Linked DNA regions of Homo sapiens: region 2 is linked to region 1. Evidence: fine-mapped expression QTL. A gene starts in region 1. The other region holds a variant in brackets. All regions are shown on one strand. Distances are between the middles of the regions.

Region 1 (5,514 bases):
GGGTGCGGTGGTTCACGCTTGTAATCCCAGCTCTTTGGGAGGCCGAGGAGAGTGGATCACTTGAGGTCAGGAGTTCGAGATCACCCTGGCCAATATGGTAAAAACCCATCTCTACTAAAATTACAAAAATTAGCTGGGCATGCTGGTGGGCGCCTGTAATCCCAGCTACTTGGGAGGCCGAGGCATGAGAATCACTTAAACTGGGGGAGGTGGAGGTTGCAGTGAGCCAAGATTGCACCACTGCACTCCAACCTGGGTGACAGAGCAAGACTCTAGAGAAAAGAAAAGAGAAGAACCTGTCATTCATTCTACAAATGTCTTATTGAGTTCTTTCTATGAAGAGGGAACTTCATGAGTTTGTGAAGCTGGTGGGGGAGCAGACAGCTAAGTAATTGCTATAAAGCTTCTGACAGCAGAGAAGCCCAGATATTTTAGGAGGCTTGGGAAGGACTGTCGATATCAGTTAGAAGTTAGAAGTCCCTTGCAAGCAAAGCATGCTAGACATGCTCATTCATATCACCTAGTTCCTTTTTGAAACAAAATCCTGGTCAAAATGGTTAGCCCATGATTCTAGAAATCTCTTGAGTGCTATTTGCATCCCTTACTAGCATTGGCTTTTGCCTATAAAATGTGTTTAATGGGTTTGGGGGCATCCAAATATCTTGGAGCTGCAGGCCAGAGAAATATGTTGTTCTCAATCCCAGATGAGCCCAAAAAGGGTGGAGGAGAGAAATGCTCCATGAGTCTGAAACCACAGGTAAGTTAGGGTTGTCCATTCCCCATCCAGTCACTCTACCACCATGCACGGGGTATCTCCCTGTACAGTTATGGGAATGAGGGCACAGCAATAAGCAAGACAGATCAGTCTCTGACCCCAAGAGCTCCAGTGGAGACCACAAGATAATTAAGGAGAAATTAAACAGATAAAGAAGGAGTACAGAATGGGGACTGCAGGGAGGCTGCAGAGTGAGGGATGTGAGAGGGAGCGTGGGTTTTCAGAGGGTGACCAGGGAAGACTTTCTGAGGCTGTGTGAAGAGTCAGGAGGCAGCAGTGCAGGGGACCAGTGCTGGACAGCAAGCTCAGCCAGTGTGGCCTGGGGCAATGGCCTGGTGGTCCGAGACAGCAGAGGCTGGATCAGCTGGGGGTGTGAGGAGAAGGAGGTCTCCTGGATTGCGTGCCAGTTGCAAGGAGAAGCTACTGAAGGACTCCATAAAGAGGACTGATATGGTCTGATTTACCCATTTAAACACACAGACACACACAGACGCACGCTGCTATATAGAGAATGGAGGAAGGGGGAACTGAAATCCTACAGTAAAGAGATGCTGGTACCCTGGACAAGGGGCAGGGTGGGGGGTGGGGGCATAAGAAAAAGGGGACAGATCAGGACACATTTTAGACATAGATTCAACAGACTGAATGTTTTTTATCTGAGGATCCGAGTTGACTGCGAGGTCACTGCCAGAGACATCGACTTTTGGGAGAGGGAAAGGTTTGGCTGACCGCAAAACCTCCTTTAGGAACAAATTAGGTGTGAGGTTAGTTTGTTATATTATTTTCTCTTTCAGGACATAGGCAAAGATGAAGAGAATCAAATCATAAAAGGCGTTTAATGTTAACATTTTCCAAAATTGTGCATGTTCTAGCTATCCCTTTAATGTCTGGGCATTTTGATACCCTGTGAGTGGCTGGCAAACTCTATCATTAGTGTACACGGTGAGAGGTTTGCTGAAAGCTATATGCCCCCGTTTCTCTACCTGTTGCAGGGGAAGTGTTCGTGGGAGAAAAACTTCGCGGCCTCATACTGTGAAGGGGTAGGTTGAGATGGCCACGGGGGTTCTCAGATTCTCCACCAGCGTCTCCTCGCTGACCCCGGCCTTCCTAGGCTTCCTTCCCGCGTCCCTGCCTGCCAGGAAGGTCCCCTGTAGCTTGCAGAGACCATGGTAGACAGAGCAGTTGTATCTGCGCCAGCCAGAGACCACCTGGGCAAGAAGCGTGACCCAGACATCGAGGAGGGTGAAGCCTCGCTGGGCCGCCCCGCAACCCCAGGAAGCCCCGGACCAGCGAGAGGCTCCCGGGCGGTCTCTTGCCGACACCCCGGCACGGGCTCACCCGCGCGCTCACACTCCGCCCGCTCCCCGCTAAGGGACTGGGTTCGCTCCAAAGGCAGAGGAAACCTATGGGCTCCCCGGCTCGTGTCTCCCGACTCGTGTCTCTTGCCTCCGCTTCCCAGCTTTCCCGACCCTGCCCGGACGGGGTTTCGGGGTTCCCTGCTCGGGCCCCGCGCGCTCCCCTCCCACAGGCTGGCTGGGCTCCGGGCGCGGCGGGAGGCAGCGGGGACGTGAGACCGGGGTCGCCCCACACGCCCTCCGCGCCCCTCGGGCCGCGGCCCCTGCGCAACGGCCCCCCGTGCCCGACCACGCGGCCGCCCGGAGCGCAGGGGCCCGCGGGCAGGCAGAGGCCGAGGCTCCCCGCGGGCGCCGGGCGCGGGCTCTGGGTTCCCCGGGCGGGGCCGGGAGGCAGCCAGGCCGCCGGGGGGCGCCGGCAGGAGCGGCGCTTACCTGAGGCGGCGGCGGGGCCGGGTGCGGGCGCTCCGGGACGCGGGGCCGGGCGGACACACTGGCGGGGCCGGGGCCTGGCCGTCCCACCGCCGTCTGCCCCCCGCGCCGGGGCCGGGCCCAGACGCACTTCCTCAATCCTGAGGCGGGCGGGCGGGGAGGGCGGCGCGAAGAGCGCGCAGAGCAAGGCCGCCGCCAGCTCTCCCAGGAACCGTCGCGAGGCGTCCCCTCGGCGGCCGCCTCAGTTTCCCTGGCCGTAAAACGCGGGCGATGGCGCTCGATGCCCCGGGAGACGCCGGGGTCCGCGGGCCCTTCCGGCACCGGGTCCTCCTTCAGGTTCGGGCACCCGGCTGCCTCCACGCGGGGCGAGCGCGGCGATGGGATCGGTCCGTGCTGCGCTCAGCCCCGCTTTCGCTATCCCTCTGCTCCAGGGGCAGCAAAATCAGCAGATGAGCCCCCAGCGCGCCTGCGGCCCACACACTGCGGCCGTAACAGTTAAACAGACGGGGAACATTCATGTGCGTAGAGCTCTTCACGGGGCGATACAGAAATGTGTCGTTCTAAAGCGTTAACGACCTGCAATTTGCATATCCTCCAACACATGGATTTTACTGATTCAATTATGGATGTGTGCAAAGAATCTGCTGCTCGGTGAGTCATTGTTAATTGTCGGCTTTGGGGGGAATACATAAAACGTGGAATATTGGCAATTTATCGTGTTTCGACCTTTTATAAAGGCGTCACCAGGCTGCTGAGGCTAATACAGAAACGCAGACCATAAAAAAGATCTGCGTCCACGCTGCAGGCGGGCCTCACGCTGAGCTCCCCGTGTCGACCCGGGGACAAAGCCTGCTCAGGAAGAGCAGAGGGTTCCACGCCCTGCAGGACCAGCGCCCTGGGCCCCTCTCCTGGAAAGTTATGACTCGCACGTTCCCAGGATTTAGCGCACATCTCCCCCACCCTCACTGCCATTTCACAGAACCGGGGCAGCCGCAGGGCTCCTGCAGGACCTCCCGGACGCCGCGGGGCCGTGTTCCCTTGAGCGGCTTCTTGGGTCCCTGGTTGGAGAGGGGACCACCGAGCAGCTTCGCTCTGCTCCTGGGAGGCTACTTCTGCCACTGGACGACTTTCCAAAAGGGTGAGCGCAGTTCTGCAATCCTGTTCTCACCCCTGAGGGCCTCACACCAGTTTGCAGGAGCCAGCAGTGTGATTGCCACCGACAAGTTCCCAACAATTTGCAGGGCGTGGTGTCCTCAGTGCTGAGAGAGCCCCGCGACGGCGGTGCAGCTCCTCCAGGGCGCGCAGCCCCGCCACCTGGCGCCACCGCGAGGGAGCGCAGGCCCAGGGCCCGGGCAGACGCTGGAGGGGACGCGGCAGGTGAAGATGGGGCACCTCCACTTCCCTTCTAAAGGAGCCTGGGAATAGGCTAGGAAATGTCCCCACTGTAGAAGACAGCAGGAACATCTGACACGCGGATAACCTGTGCTGAGCTCGTTATATTCCCAGCATTTAATTCTAGCCATTAGGCATGCGTTAGCCACAACTTCGCATAGGAAGGTTATTGCAGGTAAGTTAAGACTCCTTTCCACTTCTTCCTAAGGGTCGCTGACCCATGGTTCTCTAGCTTTTGCTGGTAATCCCACCCAGATTCTCAGCACCCTAGGTTGGAATGACCCCTCCTGAGGTGGGTGGGGTAGCTGGGAGGCACCTCCCTGAACTGACTTTTCTGCCTTTTTGAAGGTGCAGTGGCTGAGCGCTCCTTCAGTGTTTTCCGGTTGTCTTTCTTCAGCCCAGTACGCAGTTTCCTCAGACAGTCTTCCTTGAGCAACTTCCTAAACGCCCTTCATTATCCCCCTTCAAGCTCATGCCTAGGAGCAAGGAGCAAAGCCATTAGAAAGGCTTCATCCACCAGCAGGAGAAGCTAGGACATCCCAAAGGGTCCACTTCTAGAGAGGTGCCAACCCCCACACGCACACCAGGCACACAAATGCATGTGTGCACACGCATACCACACCCTCCAATTGTCCCCAGAATGGCTCCCTTCAGGGAGTCATGTTCCGGGACACCAAATGAGGGAAAATATCCTTCTCCTACAGTTTCCTGCTCACATTTGGATTGAGAAATGGGATGTCTCTAAATAATGTGTCTAAATTCTCTTAACATAAGTGCATATGTTACGAGAGATCTGATCCCAGCCTCCCTTTTTTGTTAAAGTGGTGGTGCTTTGCCACCCATGTCAAAATGATCTGGGCTTTCCACATCAAATGCAAGGGATGAGCTTGGAGGACATACCCCAGTACCAGCAATGATCTTGAGCCAATGGCAGCGTCAGCTCACAACGGGGTGATTGAGGCTTCTTGGTTAGAAGCTTTAGAAACTTGAGGTCAGTAAAACCCAAATTGATCCTTTCTCTAGATCCTCTAGATTTCTCTAGAGGAAAAGGTGACAAAAACAGACACTTGTGCTCACCGTCAGGGGCACAATGCTGTCCGTCAATCCTCATGCAGTCCTCCCCACCATTTCGCACACTGACACCATCACTACTTTATGATAAAAGGAGACTCAGGCAGCTTAGATAACAGCTGAAACTCAGCCAGCTATGACATGGAACCTCTGAGGCCCAGCTCCTTGCCTGGTCAACCCCCAAGCCCACAGAAATGGGTTTCACACTCAGGCAAAGCACTGGGCCCGACTGACTGAGCAAATGTAATTTTATGCTTACATTATTGATCCTGCTTTAATATCAGCCATTTCGTACAGGTCTCAGAAAGAGAAAGGCCTGCCATCGAATTCAAATGACTTTGGTCTTTAAATGAAAAAGCACAATGTTTCTCAAATATCCAATTTTATTTTATCATTCTCGCATTGTGGGATGCGATCTGCAGCTAGGATCGGAATTCCCAGGCCTATAGATTTTTAAACCACACCACAGGGGTAAACCTTAAAAGAAGTGAA
Region 2 (5,055 bases), 23 kb after region 1:
GTGCACACATCTTACTCTCAGTTGGTTTTGAATTCAGGCCAGGAAGTAGGGGGAGACAGATGGATGCCCTGAAGCCCCAGCAAAGCCCAGGAGGGCAGAGACTCACAGTCAGCGTCCGCACACACGATGCAGGGGTTCTTCCCCCCCAGCTCCAGCGTCACCCGCTTCAGATTGCTCCGGGACGCAGCTTCTTTAACCAGTTTTCCAACCTCCAGGACAGAACACAGATCACAATTTACCTTGGATGTTGCTGAACTTGGCCCAGGCGTAAACATCAGTGAACATTCTGATCAAGCCCGGGTGGCAGTGCCACCACCTGGCTCTCGGCCCAGGCGCTCCAGGCCCCGATGCCGTCCCTTCACTGTCCTGGCCTCTGCCAGCATCTCCTCCCATGCCAGACCATGACATCCTGGGATCCTTGGTCTAAGCCGCTCCACTTACAGGTGTGAGTTAGAGCCTCTGGAAGCCCACACAGCTGGCTGGGAACAGGGCTGCCACCCGCTAACCTGTCCTGGTGCCTGTCCTTCTGAGCCCAGCAGGCTGGTCCAGCCAGTCTGGTAAAGGGCTTCAGGGACCGCAGGGTGACTCTTCTACCTCTCACTAGAAACAGCTGAAATTCCAACAGCCCAGTAGGGGGGTGGTTCTGTGTGGCTCTTTGGTGTGATCTGAGGGAACCTCCAAGTGTTAGAGAAGTAGCGAGGGCAGCCAGCCTTCCGGATGAGAAGGAGCCGATTCTCTGGAAACACACTCTAAGACTGAGGCTGCCGCAGACAGGCAGGGAGTGAAGGGGTGCGCTATGAGCAGAAAAGCCACTCACCAGTCATGCTCAAGGCCCCCACGGGGTCTCTCCCATTGCCCACTGTACCCCTGGAGGGGAGGGCTGGCCCAGCATGACTCGGTGACTTATCTAGGGCAACAAGTAAAGCCCAGCACCACGAACTTCAGAGCTGGGAAGATCCTCAGAGACCAGTGCAGACACGGAGGCCTAGAGCCAGAAGCTAGCAAGGCGCGGCCCAGGCTCTTCCGGGTCTGAGACTGTTTTCTCCAATGCTAAGGTGTGAGCGCATTTTAAACATCAGCAAGCTCATGGGTGATGGCTGAATGAGGTCTGGAATCCATCCACAGGGCAGTGTCTGTCTCCAAGGAGAGTAACAGCATCCACCAGGGCTTGGACTAACTAAGGAGGGGGATGGGGACACTGATTGCAGCGGGTGTTTTTTTCTTTTTTAAGTACAGAAGAAATACTTTCTCATTAAAAGTAATTCCACATAGAGATGTATGTGAATTACAGGGAGAAAGCCTTCAGCTTCCCTCCGGCTCTGCCCCGAGCCCACCCCATAGGTGGCCATCAGTAAGGATTTCTTGGGAATCCTTCCAGATAATTTCTACTTCTACAAGCACACACCTCTACGAATGGGAAAATATTGTGGGTAATTTTCTACCGTTTGCTGTTTTGTGCTTCAACAATAGATCATGGACAGCTTTCCTTGTTGTAACGGCTGTAAAACATTCCAGAGAATGAATATAATATCCTTGAAAATATGTCCCTGAAGCCTCATGAGAAAATTTCTCTAAGTAGTTTTTTCTTTTTTTGAAATGGAGCTTCTGAATCGAAAAGTTTTTCACTTTAAATGTTGGATGAGTGCTACCAAAACACTGTGCATCTTAGGGCAAGTGTCGCTGAGCACCTGCTTCCCCATATTCTCAGCAGTATCATTTCAGTTCTTAGCAATCTGGCAGGCAAAAGGAAAGTCTGATTTTGTTTGAATTTGCATTTTCCTGATTACCAGCAAACTAGTTTAAGCTTAATGGGCACGTCGTATTTCTATTCTCTGAACTGCCCATTTTTCTACCATTCAGTTTGGTTTTTTTTTT[TC/C]ATTGACTTGTAGGAGCACTTTGCATATGACGGATATAAATTCTTGGAGCACTGCATGCATCACGACTATTTTTCTCTGAGCTTGTTATTTATCTCTTAATCTTAATTATGGTGTTTGACAGATGAATATTTTACATTTCTACTTTATCTTATCTCTCAATCTTTTCTTCTAAGGCTTCTGAGTTCTATTAGATATTTATTTAGTTTGGAAACTAGACCAGTGACTTTTTTTAACTGGTTGTTATGTACTAAAACATGGTCAAATTTAGAAGAAAAACAAATCATATTAAAGCCTGTCAAAGGAAAAGCTCACGGGTGTCAAATAACACGCCCCTTTCACTTTCCCCAGCACCCTGTGAGGAGGGTTACCTCTGTGGAGCCGGTGAAGGCGATCTTGTTGATCTGAGGGTGAGAAGAAATTGCTGCTCCCACTGTGGGCCCGAATCCTGGCACAATGTTCACCACTCCTGGAGGGAACCCGGCCTGGGAAGAAATCAAGATAGCACTTGAAGAAGAACGGACTTCATCCACCACGGATCCACATTTGGGCCGAGAGAGCCGTGGCTGCCTCACATCCCCACAGGGAACCCGGGCCGGGCTGGATTTACCCAGGACCCAGAAGCAGTTGACCGTGGGCACCCTGGGAGCTGACCTGGGCTTCTCATCCCCTGCTGCCAGCCCAGTGTGCAGGCTGGGCAAGGGGAGATGCCCACTTCTCCTTCTGGGGGGGGACCCCATCCCAAAGTGATATGCAGTGCAAATGTGTGGTTATGCTTCAAGGTGGCCATGGCCCGCCTGTAGCACAGCACCTTTCCATGTGGGGTGTGTGTGTGTGTGAGGGAGAGTGTGTGTATGCGTTAAGGGGAGAGGGGTACCTTGATCAGAATGCCCTGCCCAGGATCAGAGGCACCTGCAAAATATCTGCCAAGAGCTTCAGTTTTGTTTTTTCTTCTTTTTTTTTTTTTTGAGATGGAGTCTTGCTCTGTCGCCCTGGCTAGAGTGTAGTGGCGCGATCTTGGCTCACTGTAAGCTCCGCCTCCCAGGTTCACGCCATTCTCCTGTCTCAGCCTCCTGAGTAGCTGGGACTACAGGTGCCCGCCACCACGCCTGGCTAATTTTTTTTTTTTTAAGTAGAGATGGGGTTTCACTGTGTTAGCCAGGATGGTCTCGATCTCCTGACCTCGTGATCCACCCACCTCGGCTTCCCAAAGTCCTGGGATTACAGGCGTGAGCCCAGTTTTCATTTTTTAATCAGACCCGTTATTATTCCAAATGGTGACAGGGTATCACTCCCTTAAAGTTCTTTGCTTGTTCAACCTGGGTCTCACCTGGAGCAAGCCCTTCTGGAAGGCAGGGACTGCCACCTCGTTCACGTTCATGCCTCGTGTTTTTCATATACTAAGCCTCTTTATCAGGCGAGAACACAAAACAAACGAGGTGGAGGATGCTCTTCCCCACCTGTGCTGAGTCTTACTTAGAACACATTATTTCAGAAAATCAAGATTTTAGGCACGCTGCTTGAGTCTTTAGATTTTTAGGCACTGTTTCTTAACAGTTGGGATTTTCACATTCCTAAGTCTCACCAGTGTGACTTAATTATGCCCCACATCACCAAAGGAAAGTGGAAAATTGGCTCATCACCAGCTGTTCCCACCTTGCTTCTAAGCAACTGTGGACCTGCCTGCCGGTCATATCAGCCCGACTAAGAAGAGAAAGGAATGGATCTTTTCTTCTGTCCCTCTTTGCTTCCTGTTGCTTTCTCTAAATCTTTGCTCCATACAACCTGGGGATGGAATGACTAAAGGTATGTCTGGAAGGAGGTGTCCCATTGAGCCTCTGTTTCCCTAAGTTCTGGCTGCCTGAGGGAGAAGAGATTGCATTCAGAGCAGAGGGCACTGATTAGCAGGGACCCGGCACACGGACTGCTGCAGCCGCCCAGCTAGAGCTGACGAGGCCACCTCTCCAGAGAAAAATGGACCATTTCATAAACTGAGAATGCAAATCCCAGAGAACCTCCCAAATATTTGGCTCCCTCTTGGTTGACCCCCCCTGAAAATTCTCTAGACAAACCACTGGGTCCTCAACCATAGGTTTGAGCCCATAATAAGAGTTAAGCATTCTCATTAGGACCACTGGGAGGAATGGAGTTTCTCCAGCTCAGTGGCCACAAGCAGGAGAAAGAACGTGCAGTCGCCAAACAAAACACTGGAAGTCATTCCCTTCCCACTCGATTGCCAGCAGTCTGCCACTGTCCCATCTCGTGACGGTGGCCTGGTTCCTAGGAGTGGGAATGTTACCAAGAACATGTGATATTTTCTTTTTGGATGTCTCACCTCTTTGATCAGAGAGCCGAGATAAAGGGCGGTGAGAGGTGTCTGCTCCGCAGGCTTCAGGACCATGGTGTTCCCACAGCAGAGGGCGGGTGCCAGCTTCCACACCAGCATCAGCAGGGGGAAGTTCCACTGCGACAGAGCACAGGGGCTTTGGAGGCCCAGATCCACCCTCTTACCCTGTCCCATGTGCTCAACGATGCCTTTGTGGAGGACACTTGCTTTTCATGGTCTGGATTTGGGGTATGTGGGGTAACATAGGAGTGTGCAATGATCAGAACTGCAATCCTGCACAGCACTTCCTAAACTGCATTCTGGGTGGTACTAATAGGCAGCCTTTGCAAAGAGGATGCTGTTGCATGTGTTCTACCTCTCCCTCTAAAACATCTGCTGAAGACGTGTCCTCCTCCCTGCCTCCATGGGCACTTTTTGAACCCTCACTTCATGTTGCCACCTGGCTCTTCAGCTTCCTGCCTGGCTGTTGTTGCAATGGCCAGAGGCTTCCCAAACAGACAGGCAGCATTGTTGCACTTCTTGGGCACCTATAAGCATCCCCACCGCCCAATGAATAAAGTCCCGGCCCCTTAGCAGCCAAAGCTGCTGGAAGCTGGCCCACACCACCTGCCACGTGTGCTCACCCTTTTCCTCACTTTTGCTCCTGCCTGAGCTCTAGCCCCACCAGCTTTCCTGCTGTTCCCTTCCAAGTAGCCCAGCCACCTCTGCACTTTTGCCTAGGCCATTCCCACTCCTTGGAAAATCCTTTTCCTTGTTGAACAAGTCTTTCTTATCTTTAAGGCCCAGCTAAGAGACCACCTTCCTGGGAATGCTGGCCATTCCTGACCACTCTGG

The links. PIP is the estimated chance that this variant, and not a neighbour inherited with it, causes the effect. A credible set is the group of variants that fine-mapping cannot tell apart.
Region 2: its variant is the best candidate, but not a certain one, in a credible set for the expression of ALDH1A3-AS1 in prefrontal cortex (BrainSeq, PIP 0.71).

Annotation. Positions count from the first base shown.
Region 1 is chr15:100,916,500-100,922,013 of GRCh38, reverse strand. ALDH1A3-AS1 (ALDH1A3 antisense RNA 1) reads left to right here and starts at 2,731. Exons shown (of 2, transcript NR_135827.1): 1 at 2,731-3,210. LRRK1 (leucine rich repeat kinase 1) reads right to left here and starts at 2,657. Exons shown (of 34, transcript NM_024652.6): 1 at 2,563-2,657. It overlaps ALDH1A3 (aldehyde dehydrogenase 1 family member A3), which reads right to left. Exons shown (of 13, transcript NM_000693.4): 13 at 5,388-5,514. RefSeq lists enhancers at 1,029-1,088, 1,615-2,206, 3,381-3,500, 3,551-3,640, 3,393-3,985 and silencers at 2,421-3,010, 3,771-3,990.
Region 2 is chr15:100,893,237-100,898,291 of GRCh38, reverse strand. It overlaps ALDH1A3 (aldehyde dehydrogenase 1 family member A3), which reads right to left. Exons shown (of 13, transcript NM_000693.4): 6 at 4,210-4,338; 7 at 2,246-2,359; 8 at 107-209. It overlaps ALDH1A3-AS1 (ALDH1A3 antisense RNA 1), which reads left to right. Exons shown (of 2, transcript NR_135827.1): 2 at 2,226-5,055. Among named protein-coding and RNA genes, the nearest start is that of ALDH1A3, 16 kb to the right of the region's middle. The variant TC/C (reference allele first, on the strand shown) is at 1,876.